Homo sapiens: one gene and its partner. The protein of the gene in region 1 purifies or fractionates together with the protein of each later gene. This does not show direct contact. Each region holds a gene or a part of one and is shown on either strand. Other genes may lie near its edges.

Evidence for each region. The genes of interacting proteins can lie anywhere in the genome.
Region 2: the proteins of PCDHGA9 (region 1) and TM9SF4 purify together in Homo sapiens (co-immunoprecipitation; 2 studies listed by BioGRID and IntAct, with this or other methods). This does not show direct contact.

What each region holds. Positions count from the first base shown.
Region 1 is NC_000005.10:141,398,747-141,405,797, reverse strand, and holds the start of PCDHGA9 (protocadherin gamma-A9 isoform 1 precursor), read right to left. Parts: upstream 3,021-7,051; 5' UTR 2,846-3,020; coding exon 422-2,845; coding exon of another isoform or gene 359-421; exon of another isoform or gene 299-358; intron 1-298. Other genes in the region: PCDHGB5 (protocadherin gamma-B5 isoform 1 precursor), read right to left, coding at 5,274-7,051. UniProt on the Homo sapiens protein: Potential calcium-dependent cell-adhesion protein. May be involved in the establishment and maintenance of specific neuronal connections in the brain.
Region 2 is NC_000020.11:32,105,553-32,112,721, reverse strand, and holds the start of TM9SF4 (transmembrane 9 superfamily member 4 isoform 1 precursor), read right to left. Parts: upstream 3,009-7,169; 5' UTR 2,982-3,008; coding exon 2,967-2,981; exon of another isoform or gene 2,683-2,966; intron 1-2,682. UniProt on the Homo sapiens protein: Associates with proteins harboring glycine-rich transmembrane domains and ensures their efficient localization to the cell surface.

The DNA of each region.
Region 1 (7,051 bases):
AACTATAATAGAAAGTTAAGGGCCAGGCGCAGTGGCTCACGCCTGTAATCCCAGTGCTTTGGGAGGCTGAGGTGGGTGGATCACTTGAGGTTAGGAATTCAAGACCAGCCTGGCCAACATGGTGACACCCCGTCTCTACTAAAAACACACAAAAAATTAGCCGGGCGTGGTGGCACGTGCCTGTAGTCCCAGTTATTCTACTTGGGAGGCCTGTAGTCCCAGCTACTCTACTCTAGTCCCAGCTACTCTACTTGGGAGGCTGAGGCAGGAGAATCGCTTGAATTTGGGAGGCGGAGGTTGCAATGAGCCGAGATCACACCACTGCATTCCAGCCTGGGTAACAGAGTAAGACTCTGTCTCAAAAACAAAACAAAACAAAAAACAAAAAAAGAAAAGAAAGAAAGAAAAAAAATGAACTCACCGGAACCAAAGGGGTGTCTTCTATAGGAAACTTGGAATCAACAGAGACGCACAAAGGCTCATTTTTCTCACAGCTCTGCTGGCTGATGAGTGTGTCTGCATAGTTGGGCTGGGGGAAGATCAGGTGACTCTTCCTTGAGTCAGCGGTGAGGGAGAACTCCTGAGAATAGGTCTGTAGGAAAGCTCGAACCCCATCTACACCCACAAAGTGTGAGGTGGGCACACCAGCCAACCCATCACTGGTAGCCCGCAGCAGATGCGAGGAGTGCCAGTGCCTCAGCCTGAGGGCCAGCAGCGTGATAACGAAGGTGAGGAAGACACAGGAGACGACTGCCACAGCCACAACGAGGTAGAGGGTAAGGTCTGAGGCCTCCAGGTCTGCAGGGATCTGAAGACTGCCCAGGTCAGCCAGGATGTCTGGGATGCTGTCAGCTATGGCTACTGTGAGCGTGACAGTGGCCGAGAGAGGGGGCTGGCCATGGTCCTGTACAGCCACCACAAGGCTCTGTTTGAGCGCATCTCTATCTAGCAGGGCCCGAGCTGTGCGCACTTCACCTGTGTGCAGCCCCACCGAGAAGAGCCCTGGCTCACTGGCCTTGAATAGGCGGTAGGAGAGCCAAGCATTCTGGCCTGAGTCTCTGTCCACTGCCACCACCTTGGTCACCAGGTAGCCAGGCTCTGCAGAGCGGGGTGCCAGCTCCACACCAGTAGAACCATCAGTGGGGAGGGCAGGGTACAGGATTTCTGGGGCATTGTCATTCTGGTCCAAAACAAACAGTCTCAATGACACATTGCTGCTAAGTGGTGGGCTTCCACTGTCACTTGCCGTCACCTGCATTTGCAAATCTCTAAACTGCTCATAGTCAAAGGAGCACAGAGCATACAGCACACCAGTGTCTGAGTTAATAGAGACATAGGTGGAGAGAGGAGACCCTTGGATGGTATCCTCTGCCAAGGAGTAAATAACTCTAGAATTCTCATTGCTATCAGGGTCATAGGCAATCACGGAGAAGATGGAAGTACCTCTGGCGTTGTTTTCCGGGAGGTAGACTGAGTAGGAGGCTTGAGAGAAAGCAGGTGGATTATCATTGATGTCAGTCACTTGCAGGGTGATGTGAATTTCTGTGGACAGGGGCGGAGTTCCTCTGTCTGTTGCAGTCACCGTGATATTATATTCTGAGGCTTTTTCTCGGTCAAGAATTTGGGCCGTCAACAATCTGTAATAATCTTCTTCTGAATTTTCTAATGTAAAAGATAGATTCTCCTGGATAGAACAGACAACTTGACCATTCTTCCCGGAGTCTCGGTCATGAGCATTGAAAAGAAGAATTACTGTTCCCTGAGGTGCGTCTTCTCTCACTGGGCTAAACAGAGATGTAATGGTCACTTCAGGTCTATTGTCATTTACATCTTCCACCGAAATGAGCACTTTTGTCCACCCTTTCAATCCCCCACCATCTTCAGCTTGTATTTCCATTTCATAAAATGAACATTCTTCATAATCTAGACTTTTTGCTGTTGATATTTCCCCAGTATTTTCATTAAGCTGGAATAGCAGAGATTGTTTTTCATTAATTTTCCAGAATTTGTATGCCACTTTTCCGTTGATTCCCTCATCCAGGTCGCTGGCTGTTGCAGTAAGCAGCCAGGTGCCTGGGGGCACGTTCTCAAGGACTTTAACTCGGTAAATCCGTTGAGCAAAAACCGGGGCATTATCATTTGTATCCAACACTGTCACATGGATGCGCACTGTGCTGGAGCGACGCGGCTCGCCGCCATCCGAGGCCGTGAGGACCAGGTGGTGGGCAGTTGCCTCCTCCCTGTCCAGGGCGCGCTCCAGCACCAGCTCTGGGTTTATGGCTCCATTGTCTCCAGTCTGCACGTTCAGGGAGAAGTGGTGATTGGGGCTGAGCTGGTAGCTCTGGAGGGAGTTCACGCCAACATCCGGATCAATAGCTTCTGGAAGTGGATAACGTGCTCCAGGAACCGCGATTTCGTTAATTTTTACTTCCAGACTTTCGGCCTGGAACTTTGGGGCGCTGTCGTTAATATCAGTTACTTCTATTTCTATTCCGTACAGTTTCACTCTGTCTTCAACCAGGACTTTAAAGTTCACCAGACACCGCGGGCTCTGAGCACAGAGCTCCTCCCGGTCTATCCTACCCGCGGTGACCAAGGTGCCGCTGCGCGGGTTCAGAGAGAAAAGCTGCGTCCTACCTCTAGAGACGATGCGGACTCGGCGCTCCGCCAGCTCCCGGGGCTCCAGAGCCAGGTCCTTGGAGATGTTGCCCACAATATAGCCCTTTTCTGTCTCTTCAGGCACTGAGTAGCGAATCTGACTGGCCCTGGCCTCCCATAGCATCCCCAGGAGCGAGCATAGCAGGACTAATCTTCCGCGGAGCTGGCATTTGGTTGGAGCTGCCATTGCTGCCTCGCTTTGGAATTTTCTCAAAAGGATCTCTGTGCGCGCTGCTTCATCAGGTTCTTTCTTCCACCCTGCAAAGTATGGTGATCTTTTCCTTAGAAGAAAGAGGCTGAGTTTTGCTGCAGCCTGGGAGCAGGTTTGTGGTATCTGCCGGGTTTTGTGTAGCCGCAGAACTGGAAATCCGGATGGAGTCCTGATTTTCGCTTAGAGTTGATCAACAGCGGCGCTCAGAGTCCTAAGCCGTTACTACACCCACTGATGTGTAACATTATATCAGATGGCTGATAAAGAAAACACTACTCTCTTCTAATTATGATTTTAGATTTCTCCAATTGTTTCTTGCATTTGTATTTCAAAAGCAATCTATTTTTTAGATATCTGAGTTGTAAATAAAGTGGAATAAAATTTCTGTAAGTGTATTATAAAATCACAAACCATTGCTTAATATTAATTTATTCTTATTCTTGGTAGAACTTTGCACTCTATTTCTAGATATGTAAACTATTATAATTTCCTTTTTATGATGCTTCAATTTTTTCTGTGTATCTTAACAATTTTCTGAAGTAATTTTTATGTGCAATCTTGTTTGGAAGTACATTCATTTTTAATTTTTATACCTATATATTTGTAAATGTAAAATATATAATTGTATTAATACATATATAAGGATAGATTATCCACTTTGAAATTATTTTCTGGGGTTTATTTTGATGATAAAATTCCTGGAAAAACGTTTATTTTAAATTTTTGTATTATAAAAGTAATATTAATTCAGCAATAGTTACAGATGTTCTCGCCTAATATTGCTAAATATTAACAGGATTAAAGTTGGAAATTTTCACATTTTTGTAATTGCTTAAACTTTTCTGCTATTTCAAAAATGCTTAGTTTTTTAATGTGAATATGTAATGCATGCACAGACTGTGTTTCAATGATTCAAATGCATATACACTGAAAAGCAAGTTTCTATTTTAATCCTTCATCAATAAATTATGCAATTTTAAAGTGGTCTTAAACATTATTCTAAGCATCACTTAAACTTATATAATAATTTGGGAAAAAGAACACAAAATATACAACAAAGAAAACTACTGAAAGGTTAAAAGTAAGTGGTATTATAAGAAATCTCAGCACTTTGTAAGGAACCCATTTACTGAATCACATACTAAGGGAAACCAAGCAAAAGACTTATACCATGTAATGGGAGCTTTGTATGTACACAAGACTAGTAGTTTTTGTCTTAAAAATGGAATAATCCTGTATTCACCTTCCATCCTACAAGGATGTTGAGAAAACATCCAGTCATTTATATTTAAAGCTCCAAACGATAAGACAAATCCGGTGTCTTTTTCCCCTTCTTCAAGAATATGTCAGGATTCCGAGCAAGAGAAATTCAGGCAATAGCATTTCCTTTTTTTTGTAAGTTTCTTCTGGTAATTATATAGAGGTGGAAAAGGATTTTGCATCCAAGAAAACCTGGATAAACTTAGAAAATTATTTGGATGATTTGGACCTTCTAAGTTCAGTGAATCAGTCTCTCTCTTTCTCTCTCATACACATAACATGTAGTATTTTTCTTCTTCTTCCTCTCCTTCTCCTTCCTTTTTTTTGAGATGGAGTTTTGCTCTTGTTGCCCAGGCTGGAATGCAATGGAGTGATCTCGGCTCACCGCAACCTCCACCTGCCAGGTTCAAGCAATTCTCCTGTCTTAGCCTCCTGAGTAGCTGGGATTACAGGCGCCCGCCACCACACCCAGCTAATTTTTGTATTTTTAGTAGAGACGGGTTTTCACCATATTGCCCAGGCTGGTCTTGAACTCCTGACCATGTGATCCAACCGCCTCGGCCTCCCAAAGTGCTGGGATTACAGGCATGAGCCACTGCACCCAGCCAACATATAGTATTTTTAATAAAATTTTAGGAGATTCAAAAAATCATAAATCCATTAGGTAGGAATAAGAAAGCATATATGAGGAACATAAGAAAGAGATGAAAACTACCAGTGAAATCAGTGAAGAAAGACATCTACTAGCAGTTTCTTTGCTTTAAAAGATGAATTAAATGATTACATACATTAAATTTAATGGTTTATCTACATACAATAAAATATAAACATGTTAAAGAATGAGACAACGAATAGGTAAAATTCATTAGCTTTGAGAAAGAGGACAAAAAAACGCACCAAATGTTTTTGCTAGAGAGGAAGCTAAGAGCAAACTCTCACTACTTTGTAAATCTATAAGGCTACTTCTTTTATGCGACATAAAAACTCACAATTTACTGCTCCTCTTAAAGAATGGTAGGACAGCTTTCTGAGCAGCTCTGACTTCCCTAAGACAACTCATTGGACTTGAAAATGTACGATAGTTTCATGTAAATACAGAAAATTGGGTGGGTAATGAAAAAGAATAGACATAAATGAAACTCACCAACTCAGGATGGGAAGTCGACTCGCTGGAATTACAAAGTGGAAATAAGGCCCCAGATGAATCACCACAAAGTATGTCTTGTCCTGAACTCAATTGCTCACTACATTTTAGGAAATTAAACTCCGTCTTTCCTGTATGTGCAACACATAGGTTGTAGGAATAAGGCAAAGTCCCCTGACTGTAGTTGGGGGGAACCACAGGTCCAGACTTGACACAGAGACCAGGTTGGAAGCAGCTCCAGGCGGCAGGGCTGGAGGAGCGTCGCAGGCGCAAGGCAACGGCCAGAATCACGGCCAGGAGGAAGAGCACTGAGATCAAGGCCAAGGCCACCACTAGGTAAAACTGCAGCTCAGCCTGGGGGTCAGAGGGTACAGGGCGGTCAGTGATATCCGGCAGCACCTCCTGCAAGCTGTCAGCAAAGACCAAGTGCAGCGTGGCGGTGGCGGAGAGTGGCGGCTGTCCACCATCACGCACAGCAACCAGCAGGCGCTGGCGGGCCGCGTCCCTGTCGCCCAAGGCACGCGCTGTGCGCACCTCTCCTGTGCGCAGCCCCAGGCTGAAGAGCCCGGGCTCGCTAGCCTGCAGCACGTGGTAGGACAGCCAGGCGTTGTGTCCTGAGTCTGCGTCCACGGCCACTACCTTGGTCACCAGGTAGCCGGGCTCTGCAGCGCGCGGCACCATATCGAAGAGCGCAGAGCCGTCGGGACCCAGCGCGGGGTACAGCACCCGCGGTGCGTTGTCGTTTCGGTCGCCCACCAACACGCGCAGGCTCACGTTTGCGCTGAGCGCAGGCGAGCCCTGGTCGCGGGCCTGTAGTGTGAGTTCGAAGGTGCGCAGCTGCTCGTAGTCAAAGGCGCGCTGCGCGAACACCACCCCACTTTGCGCGCTCATGGACACGTAAGAGGCCAGTGCCAGAGGCTCTAGGTCGCTGGCCATGATAGAGTAGGAGACTTGGCCGTTCAACCCCAAGTCCAGGTCCGAGGCGCAGACTTGCGCGATGGAGGCCCCAGGAGGGTTGTTTTCGGGTACACTGACTAAGTAGGACGCCTGGTGGAAAACCGGAGCGTTATCGTTGACGTCTCTGATATGTAGGATGACGCTTATGCTGGAGGAGAGGGGCGGCTTGCCCCTGTCTGTGGCTGTGATGGTGACATTGTACTCCGGGGTTTGCTCTCGGTCTAGGGTTCCATCTGTTACCAACTTATACGAATTTTTGGATGAAGAGATAATCTTAAAAGGGACTTCGCCTTGTAATTGACAATTAACCTCCCCATTTTCCCCAGAATCTTGGTCATGTATTTTGATCAAAGCAATTAGTGTTCCAGGCACCGCGTTTTCCAGAATCATTTCAAGTAGAGAATGGAATGTAACTTCTGGGCTATTGTCATTTTCATCTTGAATATTAATTTCAACTGTACATTGTGCAACCAGTCCACCACCATCCCTCCCTTCTACAACCATTGAATATTCCTTGGTCTCTTCAAAATCCAGTTTCTTTTGAGTGGTAATTTCTCCGCTCTTTGAATTCAGACTAAAGATTTGCCCGGTTCTGTAGAAGGAATAAGTAATTTCTGAGTTGATGCCCTCGTCTTGGTCAGTGGCTGACACTTGCAACACAGTGGTGCCTGGTGGCACGTTTTCCCGAAGGCTGACTCTGTACACGTCTCGGTTGAATACCGGGGGATTATCATTGGCGTCGGTTACCTGGATCCGGAGCTCAGTGGTGCCGCTTAGGGGTGGATGTCCACCGTCCAAGGCAGTCAGGACTAAACGATGGT
Region 2 (7,169 bases), on another chromosome or scaffold:
TTTTGTTTTTTGTTTTTTTTTTTTTTTTGAGATAGGGTCTCACTCTGTCACCCAGGCTGCAGTGCAGTGACACGATCTTGGCTCACTGTAGCCTCCGCCTCCCGGGTTCAAGCGATTCTTGTGCCTCAGCCTCCCGAGTAGCTGGGATTACAGGTGTGTGCCACCACACCCTGCTAATTTTTGTATTTTTAGAAGACAGGGTTTCGCCATGTTGGCCAGGCTGGTGTTGAACTCCTGGCCTCAAGTGATTTGCCTGCTTCAGCCTCCCAAAATTCTGAGATTACAGGCATGAGCCACTGCTCCCGGCCTGTTGTTGTTTCTTAAGACAGGGTCTCGCTCTGTTGCCAAAGCTGGAGTGCAGTGCAGTGATCAGGGCTCACTGAGGTTCAAGTGATCCTCCCACCTCAGCCCCGCAAGTAGCTGGTACTACAGGTGCACACCACCAAGCCCAGCTAATTTTTTCTTTTTGTATTTTTTTTGTAGAGGGGTTTGCCATGTTGTCCAAGCTGGTCTCAAACTCCTGAGCTCAAGCGATCTCCCAGCTTTGGTCTCCCAGAGTGCTGGGATTACAGGTGTGAGTCACTGTGCTGGGCAAAAATCACTGTCCCTTCCACTGTGCTTAGACTAAAATCCAAACTCCTTTCCACAGCCTCTGTGCCAACTGAGAACAAGCTGGCTCCCTTCAAGTACTGTCCTGAAGGGGATGGGAAGGGGAAGCAGCCTAATACAACACTATTTCAAAATGCAATCCACAGACAACAAAATGTAGACCGCAGTCCTTCCCATTTCCAGGCATGCTTCTCAAAACAGTTGCTCTTGCTTCCCTCCAGTTTCATCTTGTATCATTCTCTCCTACCCCAACCCTCATCATGCTTCGGCCCCTCCAGCCTTCTGTGTGTTCCTCAAAAACACCAAGCTCCCTTCCACATCGGCCCCTTACACTTGCCATTTCCTTTGCTTGGAACATTCTTTGCATGGCTGGTTCCTTCTTGTTAATTATGTTTTAACTCAAGTCACCTCCTCTGAGAAGACTTCTTTCTGACCACTCAATCCAAAGTAGTTGTGTCACCCAGTCACCCCTAATCACTATCACTTCATTTTGCTGTCCTCACAGCATCTACTGGTGACATTATTTTGTTCACGTATTTACTTGTTCACTGCCTGTCTCCTCAAACCAGAAAGGCTCCACAAGTGTAGGGACCTTGACCCTGTAATTCACAACTACATCCCTAGTTCCTGGAACAGAATTGGTACTCAAATATTTGTTGACTAAATAGATGTGTACCACATATATGTATTGCTAGCTTATAACCTCTTAAAAATCTCTGAACAAGGCAGGGATTTCCCAGTGCAGTGCCGTAAATACCACTTTACTCAATGTTTTCCTTATAGCAAGAGAGGGTGTGATTTCCTTTTAAGTTCTTACACTATCTCTGTTCTGAATGTGGTACCAGAATATATATACATATATGTAGGTTTCAACATACTACTTTGAGGATTTGCCCCACTCGTGGTTCAGCCTGAAGTCTGAAACCACAGAAACCAGGTAAGGCCATGAAATCTTTTTACCTGACCTCTGAAGTTCTAAATAAGGAATCCCTCATTAAACAAAGGTAAGTTCTCAGTCAGCTAAGAGAAGGAGGGAAAATTGCTACCAGTCAATAATATATCCCTGTTTGGAGAAAACCAACACCAAATTATTTAAGCCAGAATCTTCCTTTGCTAAAGTCAAATGTCATTTCCTTTTCTCTGAGTCTTCCTTGTCATTCACTCCCCGGACGAAATTATCTGCTGAGGAGGCAGTATGCAGGAAGACCCAGGAAATCATTCTGGACTAAGTGACTTCAATTTTAGTTCTGGTCTCTTGACAAGCAGAATTTGAACTAAACTTTTAGAAAAAGGGCCAGTCCTTCAAAGATTTACTTCCAAGGTTCTGCACCAGGAGCCCGCAAGCTCTGACCCAACTTCCAAGCATGGCTATTTTACCTCCACCCTCATCCACACACAGACTTCATCCCAACATATAGCTTCATAATAAAGAGCCTTCATCCCTAACGAGCTGTGTGGCCATGTTGGGGAATGGGAAGGAGAGCAGTGAGGTGGGGCTATTAGTGTTTTTCAAAACGTAGTTCACAGACCACCTCCACTATATAATCACTAGAGTGCTTATAAAAGGGCAGATTCCTGGGCATCACCTAGCCCTATGGAATTAGAATCTCTGGGAGTGGGGCTGCTCAGGAAACTGCATTTTTAGCATGCCTCCCCCTACACACCTCGAGATTCTTATGCACAGTAAAGTTTGAGAACCAACAGGGTAAAAGGTCCCTAAGAGAGGGGCAGGGAGTTGACTGAGAGAAGACAGGAAGGGCAGGGAAGCCTCTAGGGATGAAAGATGGGGGTGGGGTAGGTGAAGGCAAGCTCTGGGGTAGCGGCAGTCAAGGGGGTGCGCGATGGGGACAGCTATGAGTGTAAGTGAGGACAGGGCTCTGAAAAGGATCTGAGGCAGCGCTTGGGCTGGGAGGGTGGTCAGAGGAGAGGTCACATCTGCGGACTGGTTATGATGGTGGGGAGGCGGGGAGAGCAGGGTCTGGACGTGACGGGGAGGAGCAAGGATGAGAATAACGGGAGGGGGTCTTCAGAGGGGTCAGGACAGGGAGGTGAGAAATGGAAAATGGGGCTCACAGTGGGCGGAGACCAAAAGTAGAATGGGAACCGGCGAAGGCAGCAGCCGAGGTCTTCCTCCGAAACGGCGCCTCCCCCAAAACTCGGGGCCTTCACAAGCCTGAGTGCAGGGGCAGGGCCAGGGAGGTGGATTTCGGGGAAGACAAGCCCAGTCAGAGGTAGCCCTCAGGCCTGAGTCAGGGGTCCCGGAGGTGGCTCAGGGCCAGGCATGGGGTGCTGGAAGATCCTGGGATACCCCGGAGGGCCCCGCTCCAGCTCCCGCTCCCGGAGTCTCCTTCACTCACCATCGCCGTCGCCATCTTGGATCCACGTGTCGCCGTAATGACGTCAGCGGAAGTGGTGCTCCCTGGTTACGGAGTTTAACTCCACAAGGTGGTCGTCTGGCTTCAACCGCTCCTGTAGTGGCGGTCAGCAGAGGGGAAAAGGAGTCTTAGCTCCTGCTCGACAGTCTGGTCTGGGAAAGTAAGGTCGCTGATTAGGTGAAGAGAGAGAACGGTGTAACTAAGGAAGCCATATTAGCTCCTGGCAGAAACTGAGCCTCCCTTATTCCCGCTGCATTGTGGGTAATGGGGGTGTGCGAAAGTGCGCTCGTGCTCTCAGCGCCATCTTTACTACTGGCAGGAAGACCCATTGCCAGGGTTACCTGAGACCTTGATTTGAGGGAAAGGGTGGGCACTGGGGCTCCAAGAGCAGTACGACTCCAAGAATAATTTGTAATTATATATTTAAGTATTTGTTTGATTTTAAGTATTTGTTTGACTATCCTATATCCTCTTTAGTAGACTGTAATCCCCATGAGGGTGGACCCTGTTTTTTTGTTTGTTCGTTTTTTACCTTGCTCTTCCTCATTCCCATCTGTGAAATGGGAAGGGGGTTGGTTCATCATAGGCTTGTGATGAGGATTCAGTGACACAGTATTACATAGGATGTATTCAATAAATAATTGTCAGTATATGTTTATGTATACTCCTTTGGGCTTGTGGTAGATGCCCAATACATTATTTTTTAAATGAACGAGTGAAAACCAGCATATTCAGTGGAGGGAGATATCTCTGAATGTGGACGTCATGCACTAGCTTAGTGTGTGACTCCAGACAAGTCACGCAATCTTCCTAAGCCTCAGTTTCCAAATCTGTGAAAAAGAGACTCAAAGAATCATGGTATTAAGGTTGGGAAAGAACTCAAAGTTCATTTGACCCATGTATATCACTTTAAACTGAATACAGTACCAGTGCTATCTTAGACTGTTTTAAAAAAGCTATTAAAAGAATAATAATGATTAATAATAATCATCAGCACTTGCCGAGCATTTTGTGTGCTGCAGCACTTAGCATTATGCTAACAGTTCATTAGACTCTTTTTATCTAATTCTAGGGGGCAAGGGACAGTTGAACTCTGATCCCCACCTATGGGCACCACTGTGGTGGATTTTCTGCAAAGATGGCTGCCACGTAGTTCTGTCCGTCCTTGCATGATGAGCATACGGTTTCTCTCCTCAAGAGATAGACTCTGTTTTACCTCCTGTTGAATCTGGCTGGTCATGTTGGTTGCTTTGACCAATAGGATGTGCTACAAGTGATTCTGCCAGTACTGAGCCTAGGCCTTAAGAGGATTGAAAACGTCTGATTCTACCTTCTTGGTTATAAAGAAGTGTAGCTACTCTGCTGGAAAGGCACCTGGAGAGAGAGGGAGGCCCAGCCAACTCCTCAAGACATTCTAGAAACTACAGCTAAGCACTATAATATGTAACTGAAGTCATCTTGGACATTCCAACCCCCACTGAGCTACTAGCTGAATGCAGCTACATGAATAACCTCATGAACACCATGTGGACCAAAAGAACTGCCCAGCTAAGCCCAGCTTTAGAGTGGGGTGGTTTATTATAGATCATTTCAGTAATAGATCATTGAAACACACACCCATTAACTCTTGTGACCTGCACAACCATCCTGAAGATTGGCAGATTGGCTATTAACCCCAAGGAGGAGGAAGCTTGAGAGACTAGGGGGAATTTGCTGCAGTCTCATAGTTTCCAGACTTGGAACCAGTTTTCCTAGAGCTTCGATCCTGAGTGTTTCCCACCATTTCTAGCTGCCTGAAGAAAGATAACTGATAAGGAGCAAAGCTCCATAAATGGCCTATTATTTTTTAGTATTTCCATTTTTTTTCTCATGCTTTGTATTTTTCCCTAAAGGCCTTTCATATCCCAATCTCTTTTGGTGACATATGCCAGAATCCTAGAACTAGACTGCCTGGGTTCAGAACGCATTTCCACCACTCATTAGCTCCATAACATGGGCAAGTTTCTCTTTTTTTTCTGAAAAAAATTTTTTTTGAGATGGAGTCTCACTCTGTTGCCGAGGCTGGAGTGCAGTGGCGCAATCTCAGTTCACTGTAACCTCTGACTCCCGGATTCGAACAATTATCTTGCCTCAGCCTCCTGAGTAGCTGGGATTACAGGTGCATGCCACCAAGCCCGGCTGAGTTTTTGTATTTTTAGTAGAGATGGGGTTTCGCCATGTTGGCCAGGTTGGTCTAGAACTCCTGACCTCGAGTGATCTGCCTGCCTTGGCCTCCCAAAGGGCTGGGATTACAGGTGTGAGCCACTGGACCCGGCCTAAATATTTTTCATTGTTGTAAAATATGCATAACTAAATATTGACTATTTTAATCATTTTTAAGTGCACAAATCAGTGAAATCAACTACATTCACAAAGTTGTCAATCATTACCGTCATCCGTCTCCAGAACATTTTCGTCATCCCTAAAAATGAATATCCACATGCAAAAGAATGAAATTGGACCTTTATCTCACACTATATACAAAATCAATTCAAAATGGATTAAAGACTTATAGGGCCAGAAACTGTAAAGCTACTAGATGAAGACATAGGGAAAACTTGACATTGGCTTGGGCAATGATTTTTTGGATATGACACCAAAAGCACAGGAAACGAAAGCAAAAATAGACAGGTGGGATTGCATCAAACTAAAAAGCTCTGCACAGCAAAAGAAACAACAGAGTAAAAAGGTGACCTCCAGAGCTGAGGAAAATATTTACAAATCAAAAACGATCTGATAAGGGGTTAATATCCAAAATATATAAGGAGCTTAAATAACTCAATAGCAAAAAATCCCAAATAACCTGGTTTAAAAATGGGCAAGAGATCTAAGCAGACATTTCTCAGGAAACAGACAAATGGCCAGCAGGTAAATGGAAAGGTGCTCAACATCCTTAATCATCAGGGAAATGTAAATCGAAACCACAATGAGCAATCATTTCACACCTCTTAGAACCATTATTATCAAAACGACACATAATAAGTATTGGCAAGGATGTGGAGAAAAGGGAACTCTTGCATAAATTGGTACGGTCACTATGGAAAACAGTATGAATGTTCATCAAAATTAAAATTAAAAATGGAACTACCATATAATGCAGCAATCCCACTTCTGAGTATATATCCAAAAGGAAATGAAATCAATGTCTGCACCCCCGTATTTATTGCAGCACTATTCATAATAGCTAAGATATAGAAACACAGCAGCTGTAAACTATAATCTATGTTTAATATAAGTATATAACTATATATTTATAAATATAAAATATATATAATATTATATATAACTTTTTAAAAGGTTTATTTATCTATTTATTATTTATTTGAGATGGAGTTTTGCTTTTTGTTGTCCAGGCTGGAGTGCAGTGGCATGATCTTGGCTCACAGCAACCTCCGCCTTCCAGGTTCAAGCGATTCTCCTGTCTCAGTCTCCCGAGTAGCTGGGATTACAGGTGCCCGCCACCAAGCCAGGCTAATTTTTGTGTTTTTAGTAGAGACGGGGTTTCACCATGTTGGCCAGGCTGGTCTGCAACTGTTGACCTCAGGTGATCCACCCGCTTCGGCTTCCCGAAGTGCTGGGATTACGGGCGTGAGCCACCACTCCCGGCCTATTTATTTATTTTTGAATTTTCTTTTTGAGACAGAGTTTCACTCTGTCGCCCAGGCTGGAGCGCAGTGGTGCAATCTCAGCTCACTGCAACCTCTGCCTCCCAGGTTCAAGTGATTCTTTTGCCTCAGCCTCCCCAGTAGCTGGGGCTACAGGTGTTTGCCACCAAGCCCGGCTAATCTTTTTGTATTTTTAGTAGAGAAAGGGTTTCGCCATGATGGCCAGGCTGTTATCAAATTCCTGGCCTCAAGTGAGCCACCCATCTCAGCCTCCAAAAGTGCTGGGATTATAAGCGTGAGCCACTGTGCCCCGCTATTTATTTATTTTGAGACAGGGTCTCATTCTATCACCCAGGCTGGAGTGCAGTGGCACAATCACGGCTCACTGCAGCCTAGACCTCCTGGGTAGGTCTCCTACCTCAGCCTCCTGAGTAGCTAGGACTGCAGGCACCTGCCACCATGCCCGGCCAATATTTGTATTTTTTGTAGAGATGGGGTTTCACCATCTTGCCCAGGCTGGTCTCAAACTCTTGGGCTCAAG